Homo sapiens: one gene and its partners. The protein of the gene in region 4 purifies or fractionates together with the protein of the main gene of each other region. This does not show direct contact. Each region holds a gene or a part of one and is shown on either strand. Other genes may lie near its edges.

Region 1 (5,894 bases), on a different chromosome or scaffold from region 4:
TTGAGCTTCTGTAGTTTCTTTTCCTTTTCTCTGTACTTTTAAACACATAATATGCTTGCATGCATATATACACAATTTATTTAAAATTAGCAAGGAACCTACTTTTAGGAAACAATGATAAAACTAACTTGCGTTCCAAAAGGAAAGTGTTAATATGAGACGTGATACTGTGATCCTAAAGAAAAAAACAATAACAAAAAAAAATTTCATAATATCTAAATTCTAGGTAGAAAATTATATCAATTAGTTTTACAGGCTTGAAAACAGAGTTCTCTTTAAACAGTCAATATTATGTTATTTTTCCTCAGGTTTAGTATAACTATGAGAATTCTCTAAAAAATTTCCATGGCATTTGGTTTTAATAAAGATTTCTTTTATTTTTACGAATTTATCCCTGCCCCCCAAGATTTTTTTAAAAATAAGAGTATGGCCAGGCGCAGTGACTCACACCTGTAATCCTAACACTTTGGGAGGCCAAGGCAGGCAGATTACTTGAGCCCAAGAGTTCGAGACCAGCCTGAACAACATGAAGAAACCCCATCTGTACAAAAAATACAAAAAAGTTAGCTGGGTATGGTGGCACTCACCTGTAGTCCCAACTACCCAGGAGGCTGAGGTGGGAGGATCACCTGAACCCAGGGAGGTGGAGGCTGCAGTGAGCCATGATCACACCACTGCACTCTAGCCTGGGCAACAGACTGAGACCCCGTTTCAAAAAATAATAATAGTAATAATGAGTATGTATACTGACTTTTAAAGAAAATATATTCTCTCAACTCCAGATATTATAAGTTTGGATTTTCAACCATTTCTATCTTGAAGGAGGGACTTGTGAACTCTTGATCTTGCATTCCTTATTATACCAACATGTTTCTTGTACATTTCATGCATATAACATTTATTTAAATTTATAAGTATGTAAAGGGCAGTTAATAGTTCAAGGAGATTATATCTGAGGGCACAGTTCCCTAATAGATTAATATTTAGATTTGATTTTTAGCATTCACATTTGTTCTACTGAATATATGCATGCACACATAATACATTTAATTTATTAAAAACTTCATTTGCTCATTTTGGTTTTCCAAAAGGGAGCATGCACAATCTCAAACTGTGTATCCAATTTTGCACATCAAAGTACAACCAAGTTAGTATGACAAACCAATCAAGCTGGTGTTTTTTATGAACAGACTCTTCATAATAAGCTATGTTACCTGGAGGACCCTTTATTGGTGTTTTGGGGGATTCAATATGATCTCTGTGAATAGATTTTGGTCGCTGTTTTTTTTGTTTTACTACTTGAGGACGGGGTTTAATTACTGTATCCATATCTTCCATTAGTTTCAGTTGTTTCCGCCTCATATATTCTTGCCTAATAAATTCTCTGCGTGCTCTCTCATCTTCTTTCTTCTGACGTTCTTCCTCAGTTTTACGCCTAAGAAATCAAATGGTTACAGTTCTTATTCTGCATACCAAAGACAAACCATACAGGAGAGAGTTATGTATTTGATATGAGAAAGGAGAATTCTATTTCATCACCTTGGTGAATAAATGGTTCATTTAAAAGGTACTTGACGATTCTGCTGAGACATGGGATTAAGCATAAATAAGTAAATAAAGGAGGGAAGGAAGAGTCAAATAAATAAATAAAAATAAAGGTATTTGAGATAATTTAGGTCGTGTGTGTGTGTGTGTGTGTGTGTGTGTGTATCTCCCAGGAAAGTTATTTTAATGTTTTTTAAACATATAATTATTTAAATTAATGTTTCTAGAGAACTTTCCCATGAGATGCCTTAAACTTAAGATAAAAATATAAAATTAGGCAATACTTTGGGAAAATAAATTGATTTCTACAAAGCACCAAAAAATAGCATTGATCCAGCTGTCTATCTATACTACAAACTTCTCTGAAAGAAATCTGTTAATAAAAATTAATGAGAGACCACCTCTTTGAGTACTTACCAACTTTTTCTAAATATGCCCATGCATCATTAAAGTTCAGATCTAGCACTGGGCCAGCAATTTCCTTTACCTTGTTTCCTCCTTCTTATGCTCCATTTCTGCTTCCAACTGTTGTTTCCGGAGCTGAGTTTCCTTTTCCCTTCTTAATCTTTTCTCCAACAAAGCTGCCCGTTTCATTGCCATATCATTTTCTGCTTTTTGATCATCCTAAGAACGAATTTCATTGAAAACGATCAAACATTTTAGGTACCAATATTCTCATTTTCAATTGTTGTAGTCACATTTTGTGGTTAGTCCTATAACTGAAAGTTTGAACTATTACAACCCTTCTGAATGTGGGTGTGGTTGAGAAATTATGAAGGAAGAACGGAACTACAGTGGTAACAGTTCCATCAAAAAAGAGGACAGGCAAACTTATTTAATTACACTCTGTCAAAACCTATGAGATTTGCAAAGAACAACCATAAAAACAAAACAAAAAAGCACAAATTTTTTTTAACCCTAATTTAATAACTTACAGTAGGTAGTTCCCCCACCAATTTTTAAAATTGCATTTAAATTTTATTTAAAATATAAGCTCAGTAAAAATACCTCAAGTAAAAACATCCCAAAATTAGCCACCCAATGTTGTAGCACATAAATGAAACTATTGCTGCATGATTTTAAGTTGAGGTACTGACAGTCTGCTTGATAGGTTCTGAACTATAATGAACATTTTTCCATTGAAGAAAAGATGGGGATGATTATACTTCCCTTCTACAGTACTTTTAATTTGAGAGCTAGTTCATTATCTATAGGCCTCCTGGGCCTGCCCTAGTTTCTACCTGAATCCTTAGGGACAGCCCTAGTTCTCAGCGGGCTTCCAAAATGCTTCAGAATTCAGCAAAGTAACAAGCTGTTGTAGAAGTGGTTCACTGTCTTAATGTCTCCTTGTCAACTGTCCCTGCCAATGCTTAATTCAATAAACATTTCTTTGGTGTCTAACATACTCACAACATAGTGTCAGATATTACATATATTAAAATATATGGTACCTCAGGTCAAGGAGCCTAAAAAATCACAAGGAGAAGAGGTACAAACAACAGGCTTTGTATGGAAACCCAGAGAGAGATTTAACTCTGAATGGAGAAAGTCAGAAGATACCATTCAAGCAATTAGTTCAAACATTCATATGTCTTCATCTATCAAATTACATATATTGTAGTTTGCCAGACACTTTATTATGCTATGGGGATAAAAAGATGCAGTACCTTGGCTGGGCACGGGGGCTCATGCCTGTAATCCCAGCACTTTGGGAGGCTGAGGCGGGTAGATCACCTGAGGTTGGGAGTTCGAGACCAGCCTGACCAACGTGGAGAAACCCCATCTCTACTAAAAATACAAAATTTATTTTGTGGTGCATGCCTGTAATACCAGCTACTAGGGAGGCTGTGGCAGGAGAATCGCCTGAACCCAGGAGGCGGAGGTTGTGGTAAGCCGAGATTGCGCCATTGTACTCCAGCCTGGGCAACAAGAGCGAAGCTCTGTCTCAAAAAATAAATAAATAAATAAATAAAAATAAAAAGATGCAGCACCTCTAGGAGGTCATGGTCTAAGAGACAAAGCAAATCATACAAAACAGTTGAAAACTCCGGGACACAGGACAGGTATGAGTATATTTAAGGATACAATAGATACACAAATGATGAAACATTTGACCTCGACTGAAGGAATTATAAAAGGCTTTAGATGAAGCTTGAAGTTAATCTTAAAGAACAATACAAAATAAAATTATGGGGAAGAAGCTAGACAAAAAGATTTAGGTTCATCTGTGAAAGTCCCTGAATGTTGTGCTAAAGGGTTTGAACTTTATTCAACAGGCAAGATTTTTGACTAGAAAGAGACTCAATTGGAGCTATGCTCTTGGAACTATCACCTTTAGTAGCAGTATGAAGACTGGAATGGCATGATTGGAGACAGACAGCCCAGTCAAGAAGCTGTAACCATAGTCCAACAGATGAGTAATGGGGTGGTGAAGATGTGTAAATAAATGGAATAGAAATGAAGCAACAGAGGTACTGCCTGTTTTATACTAATGATTTTCTTCCCCTTTGTTTCCCTTCCTCTGCAAGGAACAGAGTCTCTAGGCAGTAAATTTTAATATCTATTAGTGTCTACAGTAGCATTCTGTTAAAAAAAATGGCAGTGTTACATGATTAAGAGACAAAATGGAATCATTCTCTGAAGAGATCTGAGTAGCTTAATTTTTAAAAGGCTTTTGTGAGTGAGAAAGAGCAGTAGAGGAGCAAAACCAAGGAATACATCTAAACATGTGATAAAAGGATTTATTACAGCTTTGAGTCCATACTGGAAACCACAGTGTGCTTGAATGTTACTATAGTTAATGGGGATGAACTTGTATCAAAAGGGACTGCTACTGAAAGAAGCAAGCATGTCAACTGAAAAAAAAAATATCCAACACAACCACACTCATCTAATGAAGATGCCCAAAACTATGCAGATTAATACTACACCTTAAAAAAGAATCCACAGCATACTTTCTGGTCATCATCAAATTGTTCTTTATCACTTTCTCCATCATATTTTTCAACAGGTACATCAGCCTTTTCAGGGGGTTTCAAATCTGAGAGGGAAACTTCAATCAGATTAACATTTTTTGGAGCAGTGGGTGGGAAAACGGGTTTAGGAGGGGGTTCTGTGGGTTGATTCAATTGGTCCTCATTTGGTGTCAGACATACAGTCTCTGTGACAGGCAGTGATAGGACTTCAGAGACTGTTGACTCAAAAGGTTTGATTTCCTTTTCTTCTGGATTATGTCCACGCTGTTCCAAAGTCCCTTTGGATTCCAATTCCTCCTTTTTAACTTCCTCTTTAGGTTTGGATTCCTTTAACTGAGGTTCTCCATCATCCCCAAAACATACAAATGACCTAGTTTGAATAGGAACTTGACTTGGTGAAAACCTCCTTAACCGAGGAAGGCTATCCACAGACCGAGGAGGTGTCAAGGTTCGATTCAAAGGTGTTATTTTTAACTCATTTGGCCTAGGAGTCCTTTGACTTTTAACAGAAAAAGATGCACTTTTCCTGTTAGAAGACTGTGGAGATGGGTGAGTAGGACGAGGGGAGTCTGAGGAGAATGGTGCAATGGCTGATGACAGGCCTGCCTGCTTAGAAGGCTTAAAATCTCGAATCTGTTTCTGTGGAGAGGGTTGTGGAGGTGAAATCACCCAAGATTGTTGCTCTCTCATCTGCATTAACATCTCCTGCTGAAGTGACAAGCGTTGCATTTCTTGTTGTAGAAAATGCAGGGATGAATTTAACTTTTCAATGGATTTGGTATATTCTAAAATCTCTCCTTCATTTAAAGTTTCTTCTGAGGGGCTTGCCAGGTTCCACTGCTTCTCAGGATCAATAGGTGTAGTTGGAGACTTTAGCCATTTGGCTTGAGGATTCTCCATGCTCTCTTTTATATCTGCCAGTGACTTGCTCCTTTGTCCATCAGTTTTTTGTGATTCCTTTTCTTTTGCTCGATCAGTATATACTTTCTCATCTTCTGCACCCGCCGCTTCCTCTCGTAGAGGAGATATCCCATCCCCTTTCTTTTTCACTACAGTAAGGAATGCTGTCCTTCCCATTTTCTGTCTCTGTTTGGTAAAAGCAGCTTCCATTTTCTTTTTCTGGGCTTCTATAGCACGCCTCTTTTCTTCTAGTTTCATCCTAAGATGCACCATTTCAGAGGCCAACAGCTGGGTAGTGTCCCGTCCCTGTGGAAGCCCTGTTTCTTCTGGAATTTGTGCCCAAGCAACCACATGAGGAATATTAAGTTCAGAGCCTTCTGGTGTAGTTTTTTGAGAACTGCTTCCACTACTTTTTCCATCGGTATGATTCAGTTTCCTGAATTTTTGTTCAGCAAAGCTGGTCATTTTAACTCC
Region 2 (5,894 bases), on a different chromosome or scaffold from region 4:
TAGACACTTGAAATTTATATAATAATAAAAGAGCGGTATTCAGAATAAATGAAGAACCTTTAAAAATTAATAGGGAAATAATTCAATGGGAAAATGGGCAAATGATTTGGACAGACAATTCACAGAAGAGGAACTCCAAATGGCCAATAAACATGTAAAAAGGGCCTGTAATCCCAGCATTTTGGGATGCTGAGGTAGGTGGATCACTTGAGGTCAGGAGTTCAAGGCCAGCCTGGCCAACATGGTGAAACCCTGTCTCTACTAAAAATACAAAAATTAGCCGGGTGTCATGGTATGTGCTTGTAATCCCAGCCATTCGAGAGACAGGAGGCAGGAGAATCGCTTGAATCCAGGAGGCAGACGTTGTGGTGAGCCGAGATTGTGCCATTGCACTCCAGCCTGGGCAACAAGAGCGAAACTCCATCTCAAAAAAAAAAAAAAAAAAAAGTAAAAGGGCCCCTTGCATCACCAGAGTCATACAAATACACATGAGAACAACACCAAAGTAGTTTTCATCCATCAGACTTGCAAAAATGAAAATTCTGAAAAATTAATAAATAAAGTATTTGGAAGAATACATAGAAATGACCCACACACTGCTGGTGGGAGTTCTAATTATTTCAGCCAATACAAGCGTAATCTGATAGAATCTAACTAAAATGCACATAAGCTATGACCTAACGATTTGACTTGTAGACACACAAACCCTAAAGAATCTCTCATACATGCTCAAGGGGACTTCCACAAGGATGTTCACTATAGCACTGTTAATAACAGCAGAATATTGAATACAACCTAAAACTGGGTAATAAATACATAGAATATTTTTTATTCACAGGGTGGAATACTGTAAAGAAAAAAACCCAAATATAAAAACAGCACCATATAAAAGTTTTAAAATAGATGAGGTCTAGCTTGTTGCCCAGTCTGGAGTGCAGTGCAGTGACTATTCACAGGCACTATCATTGCATACTACAGTGTCAGATCTCCCGGGCTCAAGCCATCCTCCTGCCTCAGCCTCCTGAGTGGCTGAGACTGCATGCCCGTGCCACCATCCCTGGTTTGTAGGACATTCTTATTATATGCCATGATATGCCATTTTAATTTAAAAATTCACCAAGGAGAAACATATGTTAAGGAGTACATATGAAAGAGTATAAAAAATGAACCAGAAGGGGCTGGGTGCAGTGGCTCACACCTGTAATCCCAGCTACTTGGGAGGCTGAGGCAGAAGAATCACTGGAACCTAGGAGGTGAAGGCTGCAGTGAGCAGAGATCACACCACTACACTCCAGCCTGGGTGACAGAGGGAGACTTTGTCTCAAAAAAAAAAAAAAGGAAACTTGGAGACTTAACCTCATAATAATGGATGTTTCTAGGGTTGAGAGGGACATGACAGAGGAAACGATGTTGGTGATGGTACTCAAGGCACTTCCACTACCTCAGTGACAGGTCTTTTATTAAAAAAAAAAAAAAAAGAGATTGAGCCAGGCACAGGTGGCTCATGCCTGTGAGCTACTTGGGAGGCTGAGGTGGGAGGATTTCTTGAGCCCAGGAGTTCGAGGTTGCAGTGAGCTATGATTGTGCCACTGCACTCCTACCTGGGTGACAGAGTGAAACCCTTCTCTCTAAAAGAAAAAAAAAATTGAAAAACAATGCCAATTCTCTAGAAGGTAAGTTAGTTATTGTTATACTGCTACTTGCCCGTTTCTGTTTTTCCCAAAATGTTAAACCCTTTGGTAAGTATAGTACTAGTAGTTTTACTACTGTAGCATTTAAACATGTAATCTACTATATCAGAAAAATCTTCACTATACCTGAATATAAAATATTTGCATGTAAAAAAACAAAAGTACTAGAAATAACACATGAATGAATTTTTATATAATATAGAGGAATAATATGGCATTTATAAAATTTGGTAAGCATGATAAGAAACCATGCAAAAGTTGGCTAGATCACACTATTAAAACAAACATTCATCTGTATGGCAAACACATATAAGTGAGGTTAAAATAATAAACTGGGCCGGGTGGAGTGGCTCATGCCTGTAATCCCAACACTTCTGGAAACTGAGGAGGATCATCTGAGCCCAAGAGTTCAAGACGAGCCTGGGCAACATGGCGAGACCCTGTCTCTACAAAAAAATTTTAAAAATCAGCTGAGTGTGGTCTCACTAGCTTATGGTCCCAGCTACTCGGGAGACTGAGATGGGAGGATCGCTTGAGAGTTCAAGGCTGTAGTGAGCTATAATTGAGCCACTGCACTCCAGCCTGGGCGACAGTGAGACCCTGTCAAGAATACTCCAATACAAAAGTACAAAGAAAGATAGATGAAATCATGTAAAAAAAAATGGTAAAGTTCAATGGTAATAATAGGAATTCAAGCAGGTGTAAAATGAAAAAAGACTATCCCAATGAAGTCAGGGTATGGGAAACAATGTCACTGACTCTCCGGGATTGTCAACAATCACAATTTGGGAATATTGGCATCACTGTCAAAATGTGCATACTTTTAAACCTATCATTCTTATGAGCGGGAATTTATCCTGATGAAATAACTAGACAAATATGCGACTATTCATTAGAGTGTTTTATATAAATGGTGCTCTTCCAACCTGGGCCCATGTGTTCCTGAGCCTACCTGACAGGGCATGTGGCTTGATCTCGGCTCACTGCAGCCTCCACCTCCCAGGTTCAAGTGATTCTCCTGCCCTCAGCCTCCTGAGCAGCTGGGATTATAGGCGCACACCAGTACACCTGACTAAATCTGTCTTTTTAGTAGAGATGGGGTTTCACCATGTTGGCCAGGCTGGTCTCGGAACTCCCAACCTCAGGTGATCCACCCGCCTCGGTGTCTCAAAGTACTAGGATTATAGGCGTGAGCCATGGCGCCCGGCCGCAAGGATAGTTTTAAGAGAGTCAATTTCTAGCTCTTCAACTTCCATGTGTACTCTTTCTTAAAAATTATATGTCTGTGAATGCCTTTGTGGTCAAGGCTTAGGCTGGTTTTCAGGAATCACTCCACCTGTCCTTTCTAATTCCCCTTTCACAATTATTTATCTACTTTACAAAAGAAAGGCGTATCTCCTAACCAGCCAAATCCTACTGTGGTGTATTGCCATGAGGCAAAAAAAAAAAAAAAAAAAAACCCAGAGAAGAGGAGAGGCAAACAAAATGCTGGTGTCTGTGGTGAATGTAAATGCCTCTAATAAAAATCCAAATTTTTAGCTTTCATAAAATTACATTGATAGTGGATGATCATTACAAATAATTTTTGATGATACATCACTGTGATTTTTTGTCATGTAATTAAGAAGGAATCAAAATAATTGAGTGGCACTATTGTAATATATCTTCTATTCCCAAACTCAAAGTATTTCTATTATTTTTAATTTGCTATCATAAAGAATATTGGGGTTTTTCCATTTTTATCAACTATAAAAAAAAATTAGGGATAGAAAAGGAACAGTTTCATTCACGCAGTAAATAATGTCGACCCAAAGATATGTGAATGTATAGGGAAAAAATCTCATCTTTCTTATTAAAGTCGTTGTAAGTAAACATAAAAAGTAATTATTATTATTATTTTAATATTTGTTTATTATTATTATATTTTAAGTTTTAGGGTACATGTGCACAACATGCAGGTTTGTTACATATGTATACATGTGCCATGTTGGTGTGCTGCACCCATTAACTCGTCATTTAGCATTAGGTATAAAAAAAAAAAGTAATTTTTAATTAAAATTTGTAACATTTGTTTTGATCAATTATATATTCTAATAATTGTGAAAACTCAATATAGAAGATATTTTCATCCTTTGAGATTTAATAAAAAGCTTAAAAATTCAATTTATAGAAAATAGGGCCTAGCTTGTTGCCCCTGTCATTTTTGTTGCAGATAAGCATGATAAGCTACTCAATAAAATATTTGAAAATATGTGTAATAAAAATATATCATCTCAGGGAGAAGTTCAAACAAACAAACAAAATATATCATCTTATGCTGAAATTCTGTAGAAGTACAACAAAGGAATTCAAGGAGGAAAGGGAAATGATATATAATTTTTGCCTGTTAAAGAAGAGCTGAGCTGTATATAAATGATGGTGGGTATGAAAAAGCAATAATATTTATACTTCATTTGATACATTTAAGGCTGATTTAAAAGTTTTATTTTAAAATGTCAATATTTACAGCCCCCCTCCCCCAAGAAATTACATGCTTTGCAACTACAATGAAAGATTTAGATATCAACTTTAAAAATGTACAAGGAAATATATGGACTTTCAATATTTTGGGAAAGAATATGCAAGCACAAGTTGTGAAGACACTTGATATATCAAATATGTGAAAACAGCCAGTCCATTAATAAGACATGATTAAATAAACAATGGTATATTAATACACTAGAATATTCAAAGAAGGGTATCAACAAGAATGATCTATATTCACTGACAATGAGCTCTCCCCATACTATTTTAAAAAGTATTTCTATTATTTTAAGCTTATTATCATAAAGAACACTGGTTTTCGTTTTTTAAAATAAGCAGGCCTTAAAATTCTGGTCAATGATAAAAGCTGTAAAAGAATACATCACCATGAGGGCAAAAAGACATCCACCAATCTCTTACAGCAACTCCAATTTTTCAGATTTCAAGCCATGAGATTAAAATGGAATAAATAAATAGACAGAGGTAGTTTTTTTTTTGTTTTTTGTTTTTTCGGTAATTTTCTTTACCAAAAAAAGGGTAGGAAGGTTAAGGAATAGAAAAAAACATTAGTTTTCTGAGATTCTCATACTGAATAAATTGTCATACATAAACCAGAGTCATTAACTTAAGCATAAAAATCAGTTTATCACTGTGGTACCACAATCTCTACATACTTATGTTAAAAATTTCCATTATTTGTTTGTCCTATAAGTTAGAAGAGAGAAATTACAGCAAGTGTTTGTTAACCACAGTAACAAAGGGCAGTGATAATTTATTGAGTGATGAGATGTGTCGGATGCTGTGTTAAGTGCTTTATCTACATGAACTTAATCCTTACAATAGTCCTGTGAGGTGTTAGCACCAATTTGCCAAAAAGGAAACTGAGGCACAGAGAGGTTGCATAACTTGATAGAGGTCACACAACTAGTAAATGGTTGGGCTGGATTTCAAACTCAAGTGTCTCACTCTAAAACTCATGTTCTTGACCATTCTCCTGCTTTGTCTTTTTATTCCTTCCAAATAAGTTCACCTCTAATCAATAAAACCTACTGAATATCTAAGGCATTATGTGTGGGGGATAGAGGGGGAGGGAGGTAACAACGAAGAGCAAGGACATTCATGGGATTTTCTATCTACTGTGATCTCCTTTGGGAGTAAAGAACTATATGCAACCTAGAGGAAAGGATGGGGGTAGGTATCAGGAGAGGAAAGAGAACTTGACTGAGTGCCTACTCTGGGCAGTACTTTAATCTTCTTAGCACCCTATGAGATAAACGGTGTTAACACCAATTTTATAGATGACATATCTGGAGCTCAGAGAAACCACATCTCTTGCCTAAGGTCAATACACCATATATGAGAGTAGGGGCTGTCCGTATCAACATGCTTTCTTGAGAAACTACAAGTGGGCCAAAGACATACTTAATACTATGGAAAGGAAGAGCTGTGGGGAAATTAACACCACTTACAGGTGAGATACAGTTCACATTTATAACAACATAGATAATTTGGATACATATATCACAGATAAACTAGACAGTTATATCATCTGACATATACTTATTTGGAAGAGTCTGATTTATTGGATAGGATCGATTTTAACCACCTATAAATGTTTTCTTTTTTCTGGTATAAAGTAACATAATTATTGCAATACATTTTTCCTGTAGTAAATTTAAG
Region 3 (5,894 bases), on a different chromosome or scaffold from region 4:
AAAAACATAAAAATTAAAAATAATAAATAAATTAGAAATTAGTCTCTTAGACCAGAAACTATAACAAAATGAGGGAGGCCGACATGCGGGGCAAGGTACGTTTTACTCTTTGTATTGGGGTTGACCAAGAAAACATCTAAAAATCTAGGCAGCATCTCCCTGGTGGTGCCCTCCATAAGGAAGCATGCCAGGTGAAGGACCTGTAAGTTGAGGCTACAGCAGGCATAGTGAACACATCTTTGCCCATGGTAGATGACCAATAACAAACCACAATTGCCAGCACAGTAATATCAAGCATGGCACTTATTCCTAATGATCCAGAATCCTCAACTTAACATTCCAGGTAGCTGCGACCAATGGATGGACATTGACGCTCAGGTTGAAATTCAACTGCTATCCCTGAGCCACACTATCAGTATCTCAAGATAAGTGGACTTGAATAGCTCACTGAAGAATATCTTATGCTCTGGAATTGAGAAATGTCCTTTTCAGTAGCACCAGGCTTCCAAAATCCTAAATCTGTTAAGTGAAGCTTAGGGGAAATGAAACAGACCTTTGCTTGGCCTTTGGGAAGCTCTTTGCCAAGTTAGGCAGGGTCTCCATCTCTCAAAAGCTGACACAGACCTTCTCCAATGACACTGGATGCCCTCTGATCTGACCCCACATCCATTCTCTGCTTATGCCATCATGTGTTCACCCTTCCTTAGACTTGAGAACCCCATGCAAGGCTGCCATGAGCAGTGGTGTACAAGAGTGGGAAGCTCAGTGTATCTCTGCCATGAAAACAGTATCAGTATCAACTGGCAGATGGACTCCCTCAAGCAAGCCCTTCACTGAAAACCCAGGCAGAGGGGCCATAGGAGGATTGATGTGCTTTACCAAAGGATTTTTGTAAGATGCCTCTAAGCAGCAAACTCCCTGGGGCACTAAAATGAAGGTTTAGTGTACAAGAGTATAATCTGCAGGCAACTTCTCCAGGCCAGCACCAGTGTAAAGGGGAAGCCCCCTGAATTCCAGTAGCCTGGACATAATGGTAAGCTGAGAGCCAGTGGTGGACTGAGAGCCAGTGTAAACAAGCCCGTCATCCTTAGCAAAACCCAACGACATTAACCAGATACACCAGGGAAATATCTCCAGTCTCAGGGCTGCAGCAGCCACAACTGAGCCCATGGCTCATGGAGCCAGCTCCTCACAGACAAGGCAGATACTGCCATGACTGGGGGAAAGGCCTGCAGCTCCTCCAACTACCCTAGATGCCCCTCCATCAGCATATAAAAGCAGCTACCTCTTCCTTGGTACTTAGTACACAAAGAGCCCTTTGCATACATGAACTGTTTTAATTCTCTGACATATAAGAAGGAGGGTAATGGTGTCCTTTTTTACAGATGAAGAACCTGAGGCTCAGAGAGTTTAATTTACTCAGGGCCATAGAGCTGCTAAGTAAGTCTCTGTAGCTCCAGGGTCTGTCTGTAATGCTCCTCCTATACCTGAGGGGTAAAATAAATGCCTGCAGAGAAGTGGATAGATGACTGTTTTGACTCATAAAAATGGGACAAAAGCAGCTCAAGAGGGGAGGGAAAGGACCTCTCCTCGGTGCATCTTGGCATATCCCTCAGTTTCTCCAAGGGCTGATTTCCTGGAGTGTGGTCCCCAAGGAAAGTGCTTCTCAAACTTCAATATGCATACAGATCACCTGGGGACCTTGTTAAAGTGTGGATTCCGATCAGGTGGTCTGCGCCTGAGATTCGCATTTCCAGCGAGCTACCAGGTGATGCAGACGCTGCTGGTCCAGGGAACGCACAGTGGAGCTAGGGTTGGCTACATAGTGGGATCACCTGGAGAGCTTTTAAAGCAACTGATGCCTGTGCTCCACTCGGAGATTCTCATTTAATTGGTCTGGGATGCAGCCAGGCATCTGGGATTTTTTATTATTTATTTATTTTATTTTTTAATTTTTGAGATGGAGTCTCACTCTGTCACCTAGGCTGGAGTGCAATGGCACGATCTCAGCTCACTGCCACCTCTGCCTCCCAGGTTCAAGCAATTCTCCTGCCTCAGCCTCCCGAGTAGCTGGGATTACAGGCACCCACCACCATGCCCGGCTAATTTTTGTATTTTTAGTATGGATGGGGTTTCACCACGTTGGCCAGGCTGGTCTGGAACTCCCTCAGCCTCCCAAAGTCCTGGGATTACAGGCGTGAGCCACTGCGCCAGGCCTGGCATCTGGGATTTTTAAAAGCTCCCCGAGTGATTCTAAATATGCAGCCAAGGTCGGGAACTATCTTTAAATCGACGCTTTTCAAACTATAACCAGTGCAGGAATCACCTAGAGATCTTGTTAAAATGCAGGTTCTGATTCAGAAGGTCTAGAGTGTGCCCAAGATTTTGCATTTTCTTAGGTCTCCAGGTGATGCTGCCACTGCTGGTGTGCAGACCACATTTTGAGTGAGAAGGCGTTAGTAAACCTACCCGACCCCACCTGCAAACTCCTAGGGTTCTGAATCTCCCCCTCCCCACTCTCCCACCTCCATCCCTGCTTCCCCACATCAGCAGGGTGTCCCTTAGGCCCCACCTTGTTCAGATGGCAGTGCAGGCCATTGTGGATAATGGAATGGAAGTTTTCTAGGCGGCTACCATGAAATGCATAGATTAGGTCTCGTTCTCCTTTGGTCTCATAAAATTTGGCGTTGGCTGGGTCAAAGTACTCAATTTCAAACAGGAAGTCCGGTGCAGGAACAGGCGTGTGAGGAGCCCCAGTCAGCTTTTGGATCTTTTCAAACTTGAAAACATGAAGAGCATCAAAATTTTATTTGGGGAGCTGGTAAATGTGCTGCAAAAATAGCCCCCTAAACTCTCAGGCTTAACTCCCATGGACTCTGCTCATGAGAACAACAGGTTTCATGAGGATAGAGACATAAGCAAACTCAGAGCGTATAGCACAAGACTGCTTTCTTTAATAACATTTTTCCCGGTCGGGTGTGGTGGCTCACACCTGTAATCCCAAAACTTTGGGAGGCCGAGGCAGGTGGATCATTTGAGGTCAGGAGTTCGAGACCAGCCTGACCAACATGGTGAAACCCCATCTCTACTAAAAATACAAAATTAGCCGGGTGTGGCAGTGCACACCTTTAGTCCCAGCTACTTAGGAGGCTGAGGCAGAAGAATCACTTGAACCTGGGAGGTGGAGGTTGCAGTGAGCAGAGATCACGTCACTGTACTCCAGACTGGGCAACAAGAGTGAAACTCCATTTAAAAAAATAATAATAATAAATAATAACATTTTTCCCTACAGTAGGCTGAGAAGCATGAATTGCTCCTTCTAAGTGGAGATCACAGGGCTGGGTGCGGTGGCTCACACCTGTAATCCCAGCACTTTGGGCGGCCGAGGCAGGCGGATCATGAGGTCAGGAGATCAAGACCATCCCAGCTAACACGGTGAAACCCCGTCTCTACTAAAAATACAAAAAATTAGCCGGGCGTGGTGGTGGGCGCCTGTAGTCCCAGCTACTCGGGAGGCTGAGGCAGGAGAATGGTGTGAACCCAGGAGGCAGAGCTTGCAGTGAGCCGAGATGGCGCCACTGCACTCCAGCCTGGGCGACAGAGCGAGACTCCGTCTCAAAAAATAAATAAATTAATTAATTAAATAATAATTAAAAAAATAAGTGGAGATCACTTCTAATTTTCCTAACTTTTTTTTTTTTTTTTTTTTTTTTTTTTGAGACAGTCTCGCTCTGTCGCCCAGGCTGGAGTGCAGTGACGCCATCTCAGCTCACTGCAACCTCTGCCCCTCCAGGTTTTTTAAGCAATTCTCTGCCTCAGCCTCCGGAGTAGCTGGGATTACAAGTGCGTGCCACCACCCCTGGCTAATTTTTTTTGTATTTTTAGTAGAGATGGGGTTTCACCATCTTGGCCAGGCTGGTCTTGAACTCCTGACCTCGTGATCCACCCGCCTCAGCCGCCCAAAGTGCTGGGATTACAGGCGTGAGCCACCACGCCCGGCCACTTCCTAACACTTTTACATCTATCTCCTGCATTCCATTTTTACAATCATCTCATGTTTATTGTAAAAATTCCCTCTCATCCTTGTCCATGCACCCCTCTGCAATGTGGTTTTGCAGGTGGGATTCTACCAAGATCCCATCAAAAGATGGAACCTACTTCTCCACCCTTAAGACTGTGCTTGGCCATGTGACCTGCTTTGGCCAACGGGACATTAACATATATATAGCAAACAGAGACTTGAGAAGGGCTTGTCTTTCCTTCTTTGCTGCTGAGAACCCCTCACCATTGTCCTGGCTTGTCTGCTATAGAGTATGAGCCTCACAGAGGAAGGCTTCCAGCATGGTGGCCATCCCAGCTGAAGCCCCAGAAATGTAAGTGAGGCCACCCTAGCTCATCCAGCCAAGCCCAGAACCACCCAACCAACCCACAAAATCATGAGAAGCAATTAGCATTTGTTGCTGTTGTTGTTTTTGAGACAGGATCTGGCTCTGTCGCCCAGGCTGGAGTGCAGTGGTGTGATCCTAGCTCATCGCAGCCTTGAACTCCTGGGTTCGAGCAATCCTCTATCCTCAGTTTCTTGAGTAGCTGGGACTATAGGTGCAACTACTATGTGCACCTAATTCTTAAATTTTTCATAGACAGAGGGTCTTGCTATGTTGCCCAGGCTGGTCTTGAACTCCAGCCTCAAGCAATCCTCCCACCTTGGCCTCCCAAAGTACTAGGATTACAGGCGCAAGCCACTGCCCCCTAGTCCATTTCAGTGGTTTTTTCTTTTTTTTTTGAGATGGAGTCTTAGTCTGTCTCTCAGCCTAGAGTGCAGTGGCACGATCTTGGCTCACTGCAGCCTCCACCTCCCAGGTTCAAGCGATTCTCCTACCTCAGCCTCCCGAGCAGCTGGGATTACAGGCATGTGCCACAATGCCTGGCTAATTTTTGTATTTTTATTAGAGACGAAGCTTCATCATTTTGGCCAGGCTGGTCTTGAACTCCTGGCCTCAAGTGATCCGCCTGCCTTGGCCTCCCAAAGTGCTGGAATTACAGGCGTGAGCTTGTAGAGTTTAGTATTATTTGGAATGGGGACTGTAGACCTGTGAATTTCCTCTCTATAGTGGTTACACCTATAGTCCCAGTTACCCAAGACAAGCCAGGACAATGGGTCACACCTGGCCCATTTTAGTCGGTTTTTTTCTTTCTTTCTTTCTTTCTTTCTTTCTTTTTTTTTTGAGATACAGTCTTGCACTGTTGCCCCGGCTGGAGTGCAGTGGCGGCATCTTGGCTCACTGCAACTTCCGCCTCCCGGCTTCAAGCGATTCTCCTGCCTCAGCCTCCCACGTAGCTGGGATTACAGGCTCCCGCCACCATGCCCAGCTAAGTTTTTGTATTTTTAGTAGAGACGGGGTTCCACTATGTTGGCCAGGCTGGTCTCAAACTCCTGACCTCATGATCCGCCCACCTTAGCCTTCCAAAGTGCTGGGATTACAGGCATGAGCTACCGCACCCAGCCAGTGGTTTTCAAATAGTAGGTCACAGACCAAAGCCAGTCTATGGCAAAGTTTTCTCTGGATTATGACTGAATGAGCAAAATAAGGGCTATATAACAGATATATTGATGTAAGGTTGCCATGTACCTTTCTTTGGAAGAACTGTTCTTCATTCTGAAGTCAAGGCCATCCTCCTTTCTTAGTACTATAATATCCTTTTATAAAATGATGATACATGGTAGGCTAACATACTTACTTGGGCAATACAAAAAGTTGACAATCCTGGGTCCCAATACCCCACAGTTTAAAAGAAATTTAACTGGTCCACAATCAAAAGTCTAGGAGCTATTTATTGCCTTATCTACTTTAGCACCCAACATCTAGTAGGTGCTTGATGCCCATATGAGGTAA
Region 4 (6,621 bases):
CCCTTGAGAAGCGATTCCTACAAGAAGGAATAGTAACAACTCCCAGAAGGAGATGGGATTTTACTGCTCTCATCCAGTAAAATCTAAAAGGAACAAAGCACACTAGGGAAGGGCATGGAATCTAATTGGTCACCTTATTTTACACTACATGGCAGGAAGCAGCTATTGCTAAAATAACCAATGCAACCAAGAAGGACTATCTAATTGACTCCTTCATAATCCCCAGGTGAATATTTACTGTAAGTACCAGCAAGGAGGCCAGTTCCTTCAGATCTGTATTCCCTACTCCCCCACCCAAAGCACACCCAGCAACAGCCTCAGGAGCCAAAGTGCTTCTGGCCTGGGGCTGTCAGACAACTGGGAGCTAACTGAGATAGAACTGGTGATGCTAAAGTTGTTTTCAGTAGGTCACACCACCCAAAAGAAATCAAACTTTTGCCCACAACAAGACCACAAAGGCAGGCTTAAACATCAGTTATCTTTTCATGCTGAAATTTTATCAACTCATTGTGGTCACACTGATTATCTCATGCTGATCAGAAGCTCTGATTGGTTGTTGATGACATCATACGAATCATTGGGACACTGATTTTATTGTACACTCCATCATAGACGTCTTCCTTAATTTAGGAAGGGAAAAGTCAATGGTTACTCCATCAGTACAGTTTGGCAGATAAAAATGCAGGGGGCAACAGGACATATGTACAACAAAAAGTGCCTTGATAACAAAAAGGTTGAGAACCACTGACCAAGGTACGAAAAAAATGAAGCTGCCTTGATTCTCTGGGCAGGAAGAATTCCTGATGCCTTGGGGGCTGAGCACACAGGTTTCAAGACTGAATGAAGTCCCCCTTTCTCTCACCCTCTGGGGTCTGCAACGTTAGCATGAGAGGCTTTTCTTCTCCAGCCGGATGGACCCCCACAGGGTCCCACAGAGGCAAGGAAAGGCCTGCAGGAAGACTCAGCACAGGCGAATGGGCTGGTCAGCAGTGGAGTGGACGGGAGCCCAGGGGATTCCTTGCATCAGCAGCTGGAAAGCAAATAGGAAAACAGTCACAGACCTGTGGGATGCTGCAGGGCAGGGACAAGAGGGACAAAAACAAAGAGCAAGTTGGGGGCCTCCAGGGCAGGACACACCGGGAGAGGGGATGAGGGAATACAGGGGATGAAAATGATACCTCTTAAGCTTTCTCACCAATAGGTTTGCTTTCATGGGCATGTGACCTGCACGGCTGCACAGGGATCCACATTCAGGAAAGCCCTGAGCTTGGTGTAAGGCTCTGCCGTCACTGTCTTAAAATTTTTAATAACTTTTTAACAAGGAGCTCACATTTACATTTTGCACACTGGGCCCCACAAACTCTGTAGCCAGTCCTGCCAACTGAAGTACCCTTAGGCTGGGCACGTGGCTTTGGCAACTTGGGAGCTGGGCTAGGAGTTCAAAACCAGCCTCGGCAACATAGTGAGCCCCCAGCTCTACAACAAATAAAGCTTTTTGTTTGGTTGGTTTTGGTTTCCTTTGAGACGGAGTGAGACTCCATCACCCAGGCTGGAGTGCATTGCACGATCTCGACTCACTGCAACCTCCAACTCCTGGGTTCAAGCGATTCTCCTGTGTCAGCCTCTCAGTAGCTGGGATTACAGGCATGAGTCACAGCTGGCTAATTTTCTGTACTTTTAGTAGAGACGGGATTTCACCATGTTGGCCAGGCTGGTCTCGAACTTCTGACCTCAAGAGATCCACCCACCTGGGCCTCCTAAAGTGCTGGGATTACAGGTGTGAGCCACTGCGCCGGGCCCAAATAAAAAAAAATTGCACCTGCAGTCCCAGCTACTCAGGAGGCTGAGGTGGAAGGGTCACTTGAGCCCAGGAGTTCGAGGCTGCAGTGAAGTATGATCATGCCACTGTGCTCCAGCCTGGGTGACAGGGCAAGACCTCATCTCTTAAAAAATAAAAGAGGCCGGGCGCGGTGGCTCACGCCTGTAATCCCAGCACTTTGGGAGGCCCAGATGGGCGGATCACGAGGTCAGGAGATCGGGACCATCCTAGCTAACACAGTGAAACCCCGTCTCTACTAAAAATACAAAAAAAAAAAAAAAAAAAAATTAGCCCGGCGTGGTGGCGGGAGCCTGTAGTCCCAGCTACTCGGGAGGCTGAGGCAGAAGAATGGCATGAACCCAGGGGGCGGAGGTTGCAGTGAGCTGAGATCGCGCCACTGCACTCCAGCCCAGGCGACAGAGCAAGACTCCGTCTCAAAATAAATAAATAAAAATAAAAAATAAAATAAAGTACCCTTAGACCAGAGAAAAATCAACAAACATACCTATCACTGATCTGTGGGGGCACAATCCCAAGCCTCCCACAGCAAGTCAAAGACACGCTCTGAATAATGTCTTGCAAAAACAAAAACATGCAAACACATTATGTGACACATCTTGTTCGCCTTTATTGAAAAATATTTTCCCCAAGAAACATCCTGTGATATTGATGCACCGGGTAGATGAACTTTGCAGAATACGCACAAGCGGCACAGCTTAGTGTGAGGCTAAATGGGGACACTGCAGTATTTCCAAAGCCAGCTGTGCATCAGAATCATCTTGGAGTTTGTAAAAAAAAAAAAAAAATCAGACTCCTGTGCCTCACTGCGCATCTCAGAAGCCAGAAATAAATACGGAGGTGAGGCACACAAGAATTTGTATTTTTAAAACGCACCGTAAGAGTGACTGGGAGACAGGATGACTCATTTTTTCACACTATTTGAAAAAATGTACCCATTTTTTGCAATTAAAACCATTTTTAATTTCCTATGTGACTTGAGCGCAGCAGGTCTGTGGCCGAAGTACCAGCCCCTGGGTTGGACAGACCCGGATTCCGGGCCCTTCTGCTTTCCGGCTTATAAACCGGAATCACTCGACCGTTATATGTAGAGTCCAGCATTGTACGCTCCCAGTAAGACATAACTGCTCTTAAGTTAACGTCTTTATTTATCCTGTGGCTTCCCGACCCCCACGCATACCGCAGTTTGAGAATTACCGCTGCTCAAGGATAAACAACTCTATCTGCGCAACCAGAAAAACCCACCAGAAGCCAGAGTCCGAGTCCGGGATTGGAGGCACGTGGGGCGGGACCATCTCCGCAATGTACCAATCAGAATTCTCCGGCCCAGTAGGGAGGAGTCAAAGGGCGAACAAAGTACGCAGGCGCGACGGCGCACGAAGGCGAGAGGCGAGCTCCAGCGCGCGCGCGCGCGCGCACCTTCCCCTCCCCCTACCCCAGCGAGGGTGGGCTGTTTGGCGCGCGCGCGCGCGCCGGCCCATCTCTCGGGCTCCGCCCCCCGCCCCGCCGCGCGCTCCCGCCCCCGGGCTGAGGCGACTCAGAGTCGGAGCCCGACACAAAGGCGGTGGCGGCGGCAGCAGCGGAGGGGCCCTAGAGCCCGCTCCGCTGGGGCTCTCCGGGCCCACCTCCCTCACTTCGGCCACCGGCGCGGCCGCCCACCCGCGGGTCTAAGATGGCGGCGGCAACAGAGACAGGGCAAGCGGCAGTCCCGAGCAGAAAGCGCCGGAGGGGCCGCCGCCCCCCAGCTTCGGATCCCCAGACCCTGGCGCGGCTCGCTGCGGGACCATGGCTTCCTGGGACTCTTACCTGCCCGGAGCGGACTGGAGGGGACGCGGCTACACGTTCTGCTCGACCGCCCGTTTTGCCGCCTCCGCCTCGCCCTCCCCAGCGCCGCTGCCGCCATCTTGTGTCCCGGGCCGGGACTCCGCGCTGCGCATGCGCTGGTACCGCCTCTGAGGGACCTCGCCGCGGCCGCGCCGCCATCTTGAGTGTGGCAGGGTCGGCTGGCTCCTCGCACCCAGCTTGCTTTCGGCCCCCTCCCCTTCTTCCCATCCGTCCCTGCTGTTCCTTGTGGCGCTGAGGAAGGGGAGACAGCTTTGTAGGCCTGCGGGTGGACTGAGGAAGGAATGAATTCACTGGCACGTCCCCGCCTCAGTTTCCCCCTCGAGCACACACGCAGGAGCCGGATGTTCGCGGTGGGCGGTGCGCGGCGGGGTTGGACTGAGCGTGCGCACTGGGGGGCGTGGGGGCTGTCTTAGAACCTGCGGGGGTCTCGGGTTCTGCCGCCGGCCCAGGGGAGGCATCGTGGTGACGTAGGCTCCGGACGTAGCAAGGACCTGGGTCCTGGCACCCGCGCGGCTCTGCCTCTTCCAGCCAGTCTCTTTCCCTCTCTGGGCCTTTGTGCTGCGTGGTGTCCAAATGTTAAGAAGCCCTGCCCCATGCCCGGGCTACATATACATCGAACCCAAGCTGTAAATGCTCTTGAGTAGAAGCAACTTAAACTAGCCTTCGGGGGCAAGTAATAGAGATGGCTTTCGGCAGAGTTGGGAAATCAACTAAATGCATTGTAGGGCCTTTCCAACATTGACATCTGTGGCCATTAGTTGCAGTTCAAAGCCTCACTGAGCCCTCAAACCAGCTACAGCGGGTAGCCTGGCAGGGAACTGGCAGCTGTGAGGTGCTCCTCATCCGGCTCCCTGCAGGATTCTTTTTGGTAGGAGCCTGCAGGCGTCCGAGTGGTAGCTCCACCCATCTCCGGTCTCCCCAGCAAGCATCCCTTCCAGTGCTAGCTTGAGAAGAGGAAAAGCTTGCCACCTGCTGTCAGACCGGCGCTTGTGTGGAGCCAGGGGCTGTAGGTACCCCGGCTGAGTAGCCTCTCAGATGTCCATGGTCCTGGCTGCACGCCAGCGTGGGGGCAGGCAGGCGGACGCTCAAGAAAAACGGAGGCACCGATATGAGTAGTAATTGAGAACGAGGGTTCATGATCCTCATCTGATTTCAATCCCTGCTCCTCCACCCAAAATGTGTGGCCTTGAAGGAGTTAACCAATTTAAATTTTAGTTTCCTCAGTGGAAGATAATAAATCCGCCTACCTCATAAAGGTTTGGTGAGAATTAACTCAGGTGATGCATGTGAAGTCCTCAGCGCAATACCTGGCGCTTCCTAAGTGCTGAATCGGTTAGCCGTGATCATCTCACAGTGGCATGAGCATTGCTCCAAGTAGATTTGAGCCCTCCAGAAATAAGCCAGCTCTATATAGGCACAGCAGTTCTGCCCTCGCAGAGCTTCTCGTTCAGATAAGAGGCCTGATGGGAAACCAGACTCCTGGGTCCTGTCTCAGTTCTGGAAGGGTGGGGGGCCAGCTTTGATTTATGCCTGCTGCCCTGGCATAATTACTAATATTGCCTCCTTTTTCAGAAGTGCCCTGCTTTGGGCCGGGCGTGGTGGCTCACCCCGGTAATCCCAGCACTTTGGGAGGCCGACGCAGGTGGACCACCTGAGGTCAGGAATTCAAGACCAGCCTGGCCAACACGGCGAAACCCCGTCTCTACTAAAATTACAAACATGAGCCAGGCCTGGTGGCGCGCGCCTGTAATCCCAGCTACTCGGGAGGCTGAGGCAGGAGAATCACATGATCCCGGGAGGCAGAGGTTGCAGTGAGTCGAGATCGCGCCACTGCACTCCAGCCTGGGCGACAGAGTGAGACTCCTGTCTCAAAAAAAAGTACTGCTTTGGGCAGTAAACTACGTGGTCGCTCTTGACCTACGGGATAACCAGTTTTCCATGCTCATGCCCCCCAGCTAGCCCGCGCTTTCACTAAAGTTTAAAAACCATGTAGTGATTATTACCCTTTTTTTTTTTTGAGACGAAATCTCGCACTGTCGCCCGGGCTGGATTGCAGTGGCGCGATCTCGGCTCACTACAACCTCTGCCTCCCGGGTTCAAGCAATTCTCCTGCCTCAGCCTCCCAAGTAGCTGGGATTATAGGCACCCGCCACCACTCCCACCTAATTTTATTTGTATTTTTAGTAGAGACGGTGTTTCACGATGTTGGCCAGGCTGGTCTCAAACTCCTGACCTCATGATCCGCCCGCCTCGGCCCCCCAAAGTGCTGGGATTACAGGCGTGAGCCACCGCGCCCGGCCTTTTATCTATTCTTTTATGTTTTCAAAGTATTTTCTCATTCATTGTTCAGATTCTCTTAATTGATAACCAAGATACCAAACATCCCAAGTGCCTAGTCTTCTGTTTTATCATGGAATTCTGTGAATTATTACCTAAATCTGCACATGAGCAAACAGGTTGGAGCGAGGGGCAGGGGCGAAGTCATTGTCCAGGTTCACACAGCCATCAACAAGTAACAAAACTGGGATTTTAAGCCCGGAGTTCTCAACACCAAAATGCAGGGCTGGTTCCATTAAACCACTCTGGCCTCCCTGTTTTGTGAAGAAGGGATCTAGATTCAGGCGATGTGACTGGTCTGAGTGGACACAGTGGCCCTGGATAGTTCAATCTTTTTTTTTTTTTTTTTTTTTGAGACGGAGTTTCGCTCTTGTTGCCCAGGCTGGAGTGCAGTGGTGCAATATCGGCTCACTGCAACCTCCGCCTCTAGGGTTCAGGCGATTCTCCTGCCTCAGCCTCCTGAGTAGCTGGTGTTACAGGCATGCGCCACCACGCCCGGCTAATTTTGTATTTTTAGTAGAGACGGGGTTTCTCCCTGTTGGTCAGGCTGGTCTCGAACTTCCCACCTCAGGTGATCCGCCCACCTCGGCTTCCCAAAGTGC

The links.
Region 1: the proteins of PCIF1 (region 4) and CAMSAP2 purify together in Homo sapiens (affinity purification with mass spectrometry; one large-scale study listed by BioGRID and IntAct). This does not show direct contact.
Region 2: the proteins of PCIF1 (region 4) and TUT7 purify together in Homo sapiens (affinity purification with mass spectrometry; one large-scale study listed by BioGRID and IntAct). This does not show direct contact.
Region 3: the proteins of PCIF1 (region 4) and PARP16 purify together in Homo sapiens (affinity purification with mass spectrometry; one large-scale study listed by BioGRID and IntAct). This does not show direct contact.

What each region holds. Positions count from the first base shown.
Region 1 is NC_000001.11:200,848,816-200,854,709, reverse strand, and holds part of CAMSAP2 (calmodulin-regulated spectrin-associated protein 2), read right to left. Parts: coding exon 4,476-5,894; intron 2,170-4,475; coding exon 2,033-2,169; intron 1,436-2,032; coding exon 1,215-1,435; intron 1-1,214. UniProt on the Homo sapiens protein: Key microtubule-organizing protein that specifically binds the minus-end of non-centrosomal microtubules and regulates their dynamics and organization.
Region 2 is NC_000009.12:86,291,146-86,297,039, forward strand, and holds part of TUT7 (terminal uridylyltransferase 7), read right to left. Parts: exon of another isoform or gene 4,153-5,894; intron 1-4,152. UniProt on the Homo sapiens protein: Uridylyltransferase that mediates the terminal uridylation of mRNAs with short (less than 25 nucleotides) poly(A) tails, hence facilitating global mRNA decay. Essential for both oocyte maturation and fertility.
Region 3 is NC_000015.10:65,263,990-65,269,883, forward strand, and holds part of PARP16 (protein mono-ADP-ribosyltransferase PARP16), read right to left. Parts: intron 2,780-5,894; coding exon 2,573-2,779; intron 1-2,572. UniProt on the Homo sapiens protein: Intracellular mono-ADP-ribosyltransferase that plays a role in different processes, such as protein translation and unfolded protein response (UPR), through the mono-ADP-ribosylation of proteins involved in those processes.
Region 4 is NC_000020.11:45,931,827-45,938,447, reverse strand, and holds the start of PCIF1 (mRNA (2'-O-methyladenosine-N(6)-)-methyltransferase), read right to left. Parts: upstream 3,766-6,621; 5' UTR 3,644-3,765; exon of another isoform or gene 3,377-3,643; intron 3,250-3,376; exon of another isoform or gene 3,083-3,249; intron 1,031-3,082; 5' UTR 863-1,030; exon of another isoform or gene 750-862; intron 1-749. UniProt on the Homo sapiens protein: Cap-specific adenosine methyltransferase that catalyzes formation of N(6),2'-O-dimethyladenosine cap (m6A(m)) by methylating the adenosine at the second transcribed position of capped mRNAs.